Homo sapiens: one gene and its partners. The protein of the gene in region 1 purifies or fractionates together with the protein of each later gene. This does not show direct contact. Each region holds a gene or a part of one and is shown on either strand. Other genes may lie near its edges.

Region 1 (3,662 bases):
CACAAAACCCAGCTCAACCCCAGTTTGACTACTGAGCAAATAGTTTCGAAAGTCCCATACTAACGGCCAAACAGAAAAATAGGTGTGCCCATTTCTGGACATATACAGTCTCTATTATTCTTTTAAACAGAATGTCCAGCACTCAATGACAAAATCAAGAAAGAAAAAAAGAGAGACTCATTGTTAAGAGCTACAACAGTCAACAGAACCAGAAATGGCCCCAATGTTGGAACTATTAGATAGGACTTTAACAACAAATACAATTAATATGTCAAAGGATGTGGTATAAAGTCAGAGAAAATTCATTAACAAATGAATAATTTCTGCAGATAAAAACTATAAAAGAATATAATGGAAATGATAATTTTTTAAAAATTACAATATGGAGGAATAACAGTCATGGGCTTCTGAGCAGACTGGACACAGAGAGAAAGAATCAGTTAGGTCAAAAGAAGTTAAACAAAGTGCAACACAAAGAGAAAAGAGAGTGGAAACAAACAGACAAACAAAAAAAGCAGAGCATCCCAAACCTGTCTGGACGTATCAAACATACTAAAATACATGTATTTAGAGTCTCAGGAACAGAAAAGAAAAAAAGAAAGGGATAGGAAAAGTATTTAAAGAGAAAATGTTTCAGAGTTTTCTGAAATTCATAAAAGAAAATAAATCACAGATCCAAGAAGCTTAATGAACCCAAGCGAGGAAAAAACCCTCCACACGTCACAAACCACTAAACATCAAAGAGAAATAAAAAAATCTTTGAAAACCAGAGGGGAAGAAAGAGAAAAATTAAATTAAAAAAATAAAGATAAAATTTATAGCATGTTTTTCTTCAGAAACTATTCAAGCCAGAATGCAATGGAGCAACACCTTTAAAGTATTGAAAGAGAAAAAAAATACTGTCAACAACCTAAGGTATGACAATAATAGCACACAGAATGGAATAAGAAAATCAAAGTGTATTATTGTAAGGTTCTTATCAGATACATGAAATGACATATTATTTGTGATAATTTAAAGATTAATATTATACATACTAAAGCACCCACTAAGAAAAGCCACCAAAAGAAGGGAAGGAAATCCTCTACCAACACAAAGCAGACGTTCTGCTACCACTGAGAATGGAGAAGGAAAGTTGTCTCCATCCAGGACCATAAACATACACACAGTAGAGTTTGGCTATTACAGGAGAAGGAGTAAAAATGTTGACAAAATCATACCCCTGAGGTTGAGGCTTACAGAATCTACCAAAGACAGAGGCTTTGGGTTAAAGTTAACAAATACCCCTCTGCCTTCACCATAAACTGGGTACTGAGTAACAAGCAACAGCAGTCTATAGCTTGGGCAGGAGTAAGCGCATGAAGAAAAGAGCTTCTGTGGCACAGGCACCATACAGAGATTACTAAAAGCACAAAGTCCAACCAACTAGTGGTCTGACAGACAAGGCATACCTATTTCCGATCATAAATACTATTACCTCAGTATCTACTGTTTTTTACTCATAATGTCCAATATTTGATAAAAAAAATTTCAAAATACACAAAGAGCCAAAAAAAAAAAGAAGTCACTGTGGAGAAAGCAGTTAACAGAACCAGACCAAGATATTGACCCAGATACTGGAGCTATCATAAACTCTAATTAATATGTTAAAGGATCTATGGAAAAAGTGGACAAAAAAATATGAACCAGTGGGGAATTTGGTAGAGAAGTGGGAAATATAAAAAACAATCAAATGGAAATACTAGAAACAAAAAACAAGTTATCAGCGATAAAGAATTCTTCCAATTGGCTTATCACAGACTGGACACAGCTGAGGAAAGAAATCCGTGAACTTGAAGAGAAGTCAATAAAAATGTTCTGAAAGCAATCATCAGTTCAGTCTTTAAAAACAAGCTTCTGAAGTCAGAGTACCTGGGTTCAAATCCCAGCTCCAAATTTACTAGTTCCGTGACCAGTAAGTTACTTAACTTCTTTGTGCCTCAATTTAGCCATCACTTCAATAGAGTATAGTATAAAAGTGTCATAATTGTTATAATAATTGAGTTAATATATATGAAACATTTACCACAATGCTTGTCACATTAAAACCACATTAATATTCCTATTGCTAATTATTAATAAATCACATTATTAATTATTAACTATTATTAATGCTTATAATACCTGGTGTTCCCAAGCACAACCCATACCTCTTAATATTTGGCTAGATGCTAGAGTTTTCATCAGTTGGAAGTGCTACAAACTAAAAGTCAAAAACATTCTTCACACATACAGAAAAAGCATGGTTTTAAATTTTTCTCATAATTTGGAATAATTATATAATTAGAAACTAAGTCAAAGCACATCATTTACCAACAAGAAAAAGCACAATAATTTATAAACCTCTGCCAAATCATTACAAAAGATTTTAGAAAATGTCTTAAACTTTTATCATGAACCTTATTTATTCCACTGAAATATAGATATATTAGAAAGTTTAAGTGCAGATAGTACTTTAACCATCTCATCTGACATCTAACTCAAAGCAGAATGAGAATTGGTGAATAAATGATAAAGCAGAATAATAAAACTGATACATGAGGACAAGGTAAGGGGCATATTATTCATGCAATTCTCTTAGATTTAATATTTTAAGATTTGTCCTTGTATAGTTAGATTACCGAAAATTACACACTTGAACCATAACATCTATGTAACATGGAAAATAATGATTTAACTTTATTTTGAAGTATGAAAGACTCATGTGAAGAATTTCTCTATACTGTGATAAAACCATTAATAAAGACATTGTCTATGATTTTGTTTTCGATCCCCCAAGAAAAGATTAATATGGCAAAATACTGTTAAAATTTGATTTCAGAAAACTGTCTTTCTACTCTGATAAAATGATAGAGTTGTGTTCACTTTATGGAATTTTATAACTAAATTTAAAAGTCAATTTTGGGAGCTAAATTAGACTATATATTTAATAGATTAATTTTTTCCTCCCTAGGTATGGTTTCTAAATGTTTTTATTTCTTAATGTGTTTTATTAGTATATATAGCTTTTATTTTAAATTACTGTAATCAGTTTTAGAAGGCAGGGCATTCATTGTAAATAAATATAAACAAACATTTACTGATTTATTGATCTATATTTTACTATCTATTTCACTATTATTTAGTAAAACACTGTCATGGGTTGAATTGTGTTCCTGCGCCCAAATTCATATGTTGAAGTCCTAACCTCTAGTACCTGAGAACGTGACTTTATTAGAAATGGACTCATTGCAGATATAATTAGTTAATATTAGGTCATTAAGGTGAGCCCTCATCCAGTGTCCTTATAAAAAAGAGAAATTTGGAAGAAGATACATAGATCACAATGCGAAGATAAGGCAGAGATCAGGTGATGCTCCTACAAGCCAAAGACTGTCCAAGATTACTAGAAAACCAACTGAAGCTACAGAAAGATCATGGAACAGATTCTTCCTCAGAGCTCTCAGAAGAAATCAACCCTGATGACACTTTGATCTCTGACTTCTAATCTCCAGAACTGTGAGACAATAAATTTCTGTGGTTTAAGCCACCTAGTTTGTGGTGTTTTATTACACCAGACTAGCAAACTAACACACACTCCTTTTTTTCAACAAATTTACTTTATATGCACCCAACATAAACCA
Region 2 (3,662 bases), on another chromosome or scaffold:
GGTTTACATAAAACTTGCTTCAAAAATACTCTAGTTTCTGACTTACACAGCATACAATGGTGCAGACGATAACACTGAGCTTGGCCTATTCTAGTGCTAGGACTTACACTCACTTCTTCCCCTGGAAAGACTATATAGGGTCCCTATCTGCTTGTAATTAAAAAGGGATGAAGTCAAAGCAGAAGCTATTCAATAGCTGTCCCCCAGAATTGTTTGGGCATGTTTAATAAAGAAAATACAAAAGGCAATTTGCTGAGGTTAATTTTTTAAAGAACCACAGAGAACAGAGACAAGGGTTTTCTTACATTTATGTCCCTAATTAAAATAAATGTCAGCATACCATTAAGAAAATCATGAATAAAATTACTGCTTTTCAGTTACCTTATTGAGCTCTGGAAACAGTTCCTGTATCACAATGTCCAATAAAACATAAGTCAGCTAAAGCACCAAAAAATAATAATAATAAATGTTAAGGCACTAAACACAAAAACCATAAAAATGATACACACAAAATTAAAGATTGTGGTTACCTCTAAGTGGGAAGGCAGGGAATGGGACTGATAATATAAAACAAGCACAAAAGTAGCCTCAGTAGTATCAATAATGTTCTATTCTCAAAATAGGTAATAAGTACACATGTGTTTGCATGAGGACACTTTCATTATGCCTCATTAATTCATTTTTATGTTAAATATTTGAATTTTTAGAAAAACAAGAACACAAAATCACAACTGTATTGAGATCTCAACAGAATATATAAAGCTTATACATAGTTTACATAAACCATAAACATAAAAATGTTAACTGGTTATTCTATGTGACTTGAATAATGGAATTATCCATTTTTAATTTTTTACTGTATTTCATGAATTTTCTATGCCAAATTTTCTACAATTACTATATATTAATTTTAAATCAAAATAATTCATCTTATTTAGAAAAAACTGAAACAAAAAGAGTAACTCAAATAAAACTTTTTTTCTATCTGAATGTTTAAAATTATATTGCCTTGGTTTAGTATAGTGTCATTTATACAACTAATGAGTTACCAGACACCTTACTACGTCGTTCACCAAACCTAGCCAGCATGAGTTTACGAGCTTTAATGAGCTTTACCTGCTTGTTGAGTACTGGTTGCTGTAAGCCATCAAACAGAAGTCTGATGCTTTCATACTTGGTTTCTTCACCAATACACTTGACTAACAGATCTAAACAAAAAGGCCAAATGTGAAATAATTTTATATTATAAAGTGACTCACCATTAACTGGATCATAAAGCAAAATCACCACCCTGTTTCCCAGATACTAGGCAAAAACTGCAAATCAATACTCCCCAAACCAGTGTTTCTATAAGAGGCTCCTGGATAAGAGGTTTCTATGGTCAAGTTGACAAATGCAGTATCATGTATCCCATTTTTGGAGATTCACAATGCACAAGGCATAATGCAAACTCTGAGAAATGCTGCAGTAAAAAAAAAAAAAAAAAAAATCTGCTAGTTGGAAAATAATACTTATTGTATTACCCCACTAAGGGAAAACAAAACAAATTAAACCCTAAAATGATGTTTGTACATCTGTACATACATGTATAGAAATGCATGGAAAAATGTAAGGATTAACACCCAATGTAGGATAAGCCGACTTCTACCCAGTGGGCAGAAGATAGCTTCTACTTTTTATTCTATATATTTTCATAGTGCTCTTAATATCAGAAAAAAAAAGTTTAATTTTTAAGGCAGACTTTTCTCAGTGAATAAGAACACCTAATTTCTGGACTTTTGCATAAGTTACTATTAACCATCTTACAAACCAATCATTTTGGGAAATATAACAAATATTTAAACACTTATTTAGGGTCCAACGAGTTCAGATTTGTGTCTGGCTGCATAGATGTCATGTACCACTGATATCAATTCTGTTACCAAGAAAAGTCAATCCTTATTAAGATCTCCACTGAATGCTTCCCTAAGCAGAAAAAAAAGAAGTTATTCTTATATAAACAAGGTACTCAAATATTTATCCTTTTTCCCCTATCATAACTAAACTCCTAGTGTTGGTCATAAAAAATTCTAATGCTAGGAGACAAAGCCAAATTTAATTTACAATAGGCATAGTACATCCTTGGTATTTTCAAGATATGTGGCCCAATACAAATCTTTGTTAATCCTCAAACTCACCAATACTACATGGAATTTCCCAATTAATATGCATGAAACTAATGAACAAATATACGTAATTCTTTCACATCCTTCAGGTGTCACTAAGTAAGAGATGAGGAGCAGAGGATAACACAAAGGAATGGTAAGCTTGCTCAAGAGCTAAGTTACTCTCCCAAACGGGAGTCTTAAAGTGAATGTGGTTTGAATTTGTGCCTCAGCAAAATAACAAATTACTATATTCTCTGGCTCTCCATGTTGTTTCTGAGTATCAAAGCTGAGACTGTTGAAAGTATGAATGCTAAGGGTCATTATATCAGAAAACAGGTAAAAAAAAATTATTTCATCATTTGCCTACAGAAAATTTACTCAAAAACAGCTTATGTTCAGTTTTATATTCAGAGCAGATATTTAAGTTAATTATTTTCACAAGGAAGAGCAGAACTATTCTAAGGCTAGTTCCTCAATATTAAGAATTCTCTAAGGTTCTGTCCTAAGACCTCCTCTTTTTAAAATAAACTTTACTTTTTAAAGTAGTTTTGTGTTCACAATGAAACTGAGCAGAAGGAAGAGATTTCGCATATGTTCCCTGTCTTGTCTCCCCGACTATCAACATCCCCAACAAGAGTGTACATTTGTTACAACTGATAACACACATTGGTACATCATTATTACCCAGAGTCCATAATTTACATTGGAGTTCGTTCTTGGTGTTGTACGTTCTGTGGGTCTGGACAAATAGATGATGATATGTAACCATCATTATAGAGTAGTTTCACTGCCCCAAAAAATCCTCTCTGCTCTGCCTATTCATCCCTCCCTCCCCTCCAATCCACTGTCTTCTTAGTTTTGCCTTTTCCAAAACAGCAGATAGTTGAAAATATACAGTATGCAGTCTTTTCAGATTGGCTTCTTTCTCTTAGTAAGATGAATTTCAGGCTCCTCCATGACTTTTCATGATGTGACAGCTCATTCCTTTATAGCACTGAATAATATCCCATTGTCTAGAAGTATGAGTTTATTTATCCATTCACCTAAATAAAGAACACCTTGGTTGCTTCCAAGTTTTGGCAATTCTGAAGTTGCTATAAACATTCATGTGCAGGTTTCTGGGTGGACATGTTTTCAACTGCTTTGGGTAAATATCAAGAAACATAATTGCCAGATCTCATGGTAAGAGTGTGCTTAGTTTTGTAAGAAACTGCTCACCTGTCTTCCAAAGTGGCTACACCATTTTGCATGCCCACCAGCAATGAATGAGAATTCCACATGTTCACCAGCAAATGGTGGTGTTGGTGTTCTGGATCTGGGCCATTCTAACAGGTGTGTGGTGGTATCTCATTGTTTTAAATGTGCATTTCCTTGATGACATATGATGTAGAACATCTTTTCATATGCTTGTGTGTAATCTTCTTTGGTAAGGTGTCAAGATATTTGGCCAATTTTAAAATCAGGTTGTTTGTGTTCTTATTGTTGAGTTTCAGGATTTCTTTGTACATTTTTGGT
Region 3 (2,789 bases), on another chromosome or scaffold:
CCAAGTTTGGAACTGAGAGAGCTGGAGTCAGGTCGATGGAGGTCAAAGTAACTATTGCTAATAAAACGGGAAGGTAGCTTCAGGGCTGCAGCCAGGTTGGCCTGCCAATATATTACACCTCTGGACTCACTCTGTCACTGGCTGGGCTGGCTACAGGCTATTCTCTGCACAAGGCAGAGAACTGCCAGGACACATTCTTTCTGCTGGCAGCCAGAGTCCACAGGGAAGGAACTAGAAGGGTATATAGGACATGGGTGCCTAGTTATTCTCCAAACATAATCAGGGAGTCAATCTCCCTCCAGTGGGTGGAGAGAGAGGCTAGGAACATTAACCAGTGGAAGCCCTCCACATGAAGACATGAGACACGGGGAATAAGTGTTCCTCCCACCAACACTATCTTGCACTTTTTTTCCACCTTTTCTTTGGTGTGAAAATGTTCAAAGAGTAAAGAAAATAGTAATAATGACCTCACATTTTCCCCTCAGCCAGCTAGAGCAATCTTTACATTATACATAGACACACCAATTTACTCATGGCAACACAATAGGTATTTTTTACTCAATTCTGTAAAAATAAAGTTTTTACAGAAGTTTGTACACATCAGCAGTACTACAAGAACTGCTGATGCCTGGCTACAATTTTATAAACCACCACAGAGCTTACAAAATAAACAAAAGAAAAATTGAAATTATAAGTTCAAAGAGTAGGTTTTAATTTAATAAGCTATTGTGTATTTAGGTGAAAACCAATTAAACTTGGAATTGCATTACAAATTTGAAATTGTAATGAAGCAAGTAGCTTTTATCATGAAATTGGAACATAAATATAATATCAACAAAAACATAAGAAATTCCTATTCCAATTAAGTCTCAAAATATTTGTTTTACAGGTAGAACTCAGAGAAGTGATTAACAAAAAACACTTAGAATTAATAGCTGAGTAGAAAACCTAATAATTTCTGATTCACAGAGTTAGCTGACAATTGTGTAGTAGTTTGAAAAAAGCTCTTCTCCTTGATTGATGTCCCTAAGTGCGACAAGAACAACACATCGAAGTGGGCTGAAAACAAAAAGATATACAAAAGGTAGAGCATTAACAAATATAAGCTCATATTTTTAATATAACCAAGATGGCTTTTATAGAGGTAACTTTACTCAGGTTCCTTCCATTTTAGTTTATGCATTTGATTTCCATGAGGAAATAGTTCTTATTCCTGATGCAGGTATTCTAAAGAGTATATCTATATCATTTAAAAAATCACAAATCAATGTTTATACAACTGACTACTTCTTCTGAAAACATTGTTTCTAAGTTTAGGCCCCCAAAACTAGTATCACAAAAAGGATTTTAAAATGACATTATAGTTTTTCTTGCATTCATTTGTATCTTATATCCTGAAAAATGAAAACATTACTTAAAATTAGTTGGAGTTTTAAAAAAATGCTTTTTTCTGGACATCATAAAATATTGTTTGTTTTTTTTGAGATGGAATCTCACTCTGTCACCCAGGCTGGTGTGCAGTGGTGTGACCTTGGCTCACTGCAACCTCTGCCTCCCGGGTTCAAGCGATTCTCCTGCCTCAGCCTCCTGAGTAGCTGGGATTACAGGTGCGTGCCACCACGCCTGACTAATTTTTGTATTTTTAGTAGAGATGAGGTTTCACCATGTTGGTCAGGCTGTTCTCAAACTCCTGACCTTGTGATCCGCCCGCCTCGGCCTCCCAAAGTGCTGGGATTACAGGCATGAGCCACCGCACCCAGCCTAGATATTGTTACATATATACATTCAAAGTTCTAATAACATCATGCCCCGGAGTATATGGCTAAGAAAAGCTAATAGTTAAACACACAAACATACACATGCAGAGAAGCAAAAGTTATCAAGTTTTTGGTTTTTGTTTTTTTCCTGTTTTGGGACAGGATCTGGCTCTGTCACCCAGGCTGCAGTGCAGTGGTGCCATCTCAGCTCAATGCAACATACACCTCCCAAGTCAAGGATCCTCCCACCTCAGCTTCCCAAGTAGCTGGGACTACAGGTACACACCACCACACCCAGCTAATTTTTGTATTTTTTGTAGAGAAGGGGTTTTGTCATGTTGTCTGGGCTGGTTTCGAATTCCTGTGCTCAAGCAATCCACCCACCTTGGCCTCCCAAAGTGCTGAGATTACAGGCTTGAGGTACCGTGTCTGGCCTCAAGTTTTAAGTATAAATAATAGTTCATGTTTTAAATGTCATTCATCTTAGAAGGACAATTTAATAGGTCCTATATAAAATAAAGTTTGCTAGCAACTCAACAAAATAATACAAAGATTGTATCTTCCTACAGCACTGTTAAGAAAGAACTCTTAGCTCTCCAGAATTACCTATATTTTAAAATTGTTATTTGAATATTCTCAGTAGACTTTCCACTGAATGAACAGGAAATAAATGCTATGTTAAAATATGTGTCTTCTGAATACAGTCCTTTTTTATTTAGTTTCATTATTAAGAACCTAATAGTGAAATTGGCAAAGGAATCATAGTGTAATTTGGCCTCTTTCTTCAATTGGATGCTTTCTTATAAGGTAGAGAACATGATATTATAAATGATTAAAGTAAAGATATATTTGAAGATTTTGTAGGTAGGAAAAACAACAGAATTATTTGAAAAAACTTTAAGGTGGATACTTATGAAGTATTGCCATAGAATAAAAATGGGTAAAAATAAACAGAATGAGCTAGTTTAAAGGAAAATTTTAAATTTCAAATAAGCCTACATTAACACGTTAAGGTGTGAACATAAAAATCTG

What was found.
Region 2: the proteins of SLC30A7 (region 1) and SNX14 purify together in Homo sapiens (affinity purification with mass spectrometry; one large-scale study listed by BioGRID and IntAct). This does not show direct contact.
Region 3: the proteins of SLC30A7 (region 1) and SETD9 purify together in Homo sapiens (affinity purification with mass spectrometry; one large-scale study listed by BioGRID and IntAct). This does not show direct contact.

What each region holds. Positions count from the first base shown.
Region 1 is NC_000001.11:100,902,432-100,906,093, reverse strand, and holds part of SLC30A7 (zinc transporter 7), read right to left. Parts: intron 1-3,662. UniProt on the Homo sapiens protein: Zinc ion transporter mediating zinc entry from the cytosol into the lumen of organelles along the secretory pathway.
Region 2 is NC_000006.12:85,506,852-85,510,513, forward strand, and holds part of SNX14 (sorting nexin-14), read right to left. Parts: intron 1,966-3,662; coding exon of another isoform or gene 1,919-1,965; exon of another isoform or gene 1,469-1,918; intron 1,463-1,468; coding exon of another isoform or gene 1,425-1,462; exon of another isoform or gene 1,209-1,424; coding exon 1,117-1,208; intron 439-1,116; coding exon 382-438; intron 1-381. UniProt on the Homo sapiens protein: Plays a role in maintaining normal neuronal excitability and synaptic transmission. May be involved in several stages of intracellular trafficking. Required for autophagosome clearance, possibly by mediating the fusion of lysosomes with autophagosomes.
Region 3 is NC_000005.10:56,915,085-56,917,873, reverse strand, and holds the end of SETD9 (SET domain-containing protein 9), read right to left. Parts: intron 1,060-2,789; coding exon 972-1,059; 3' UTR 526-971; downstream 1-525.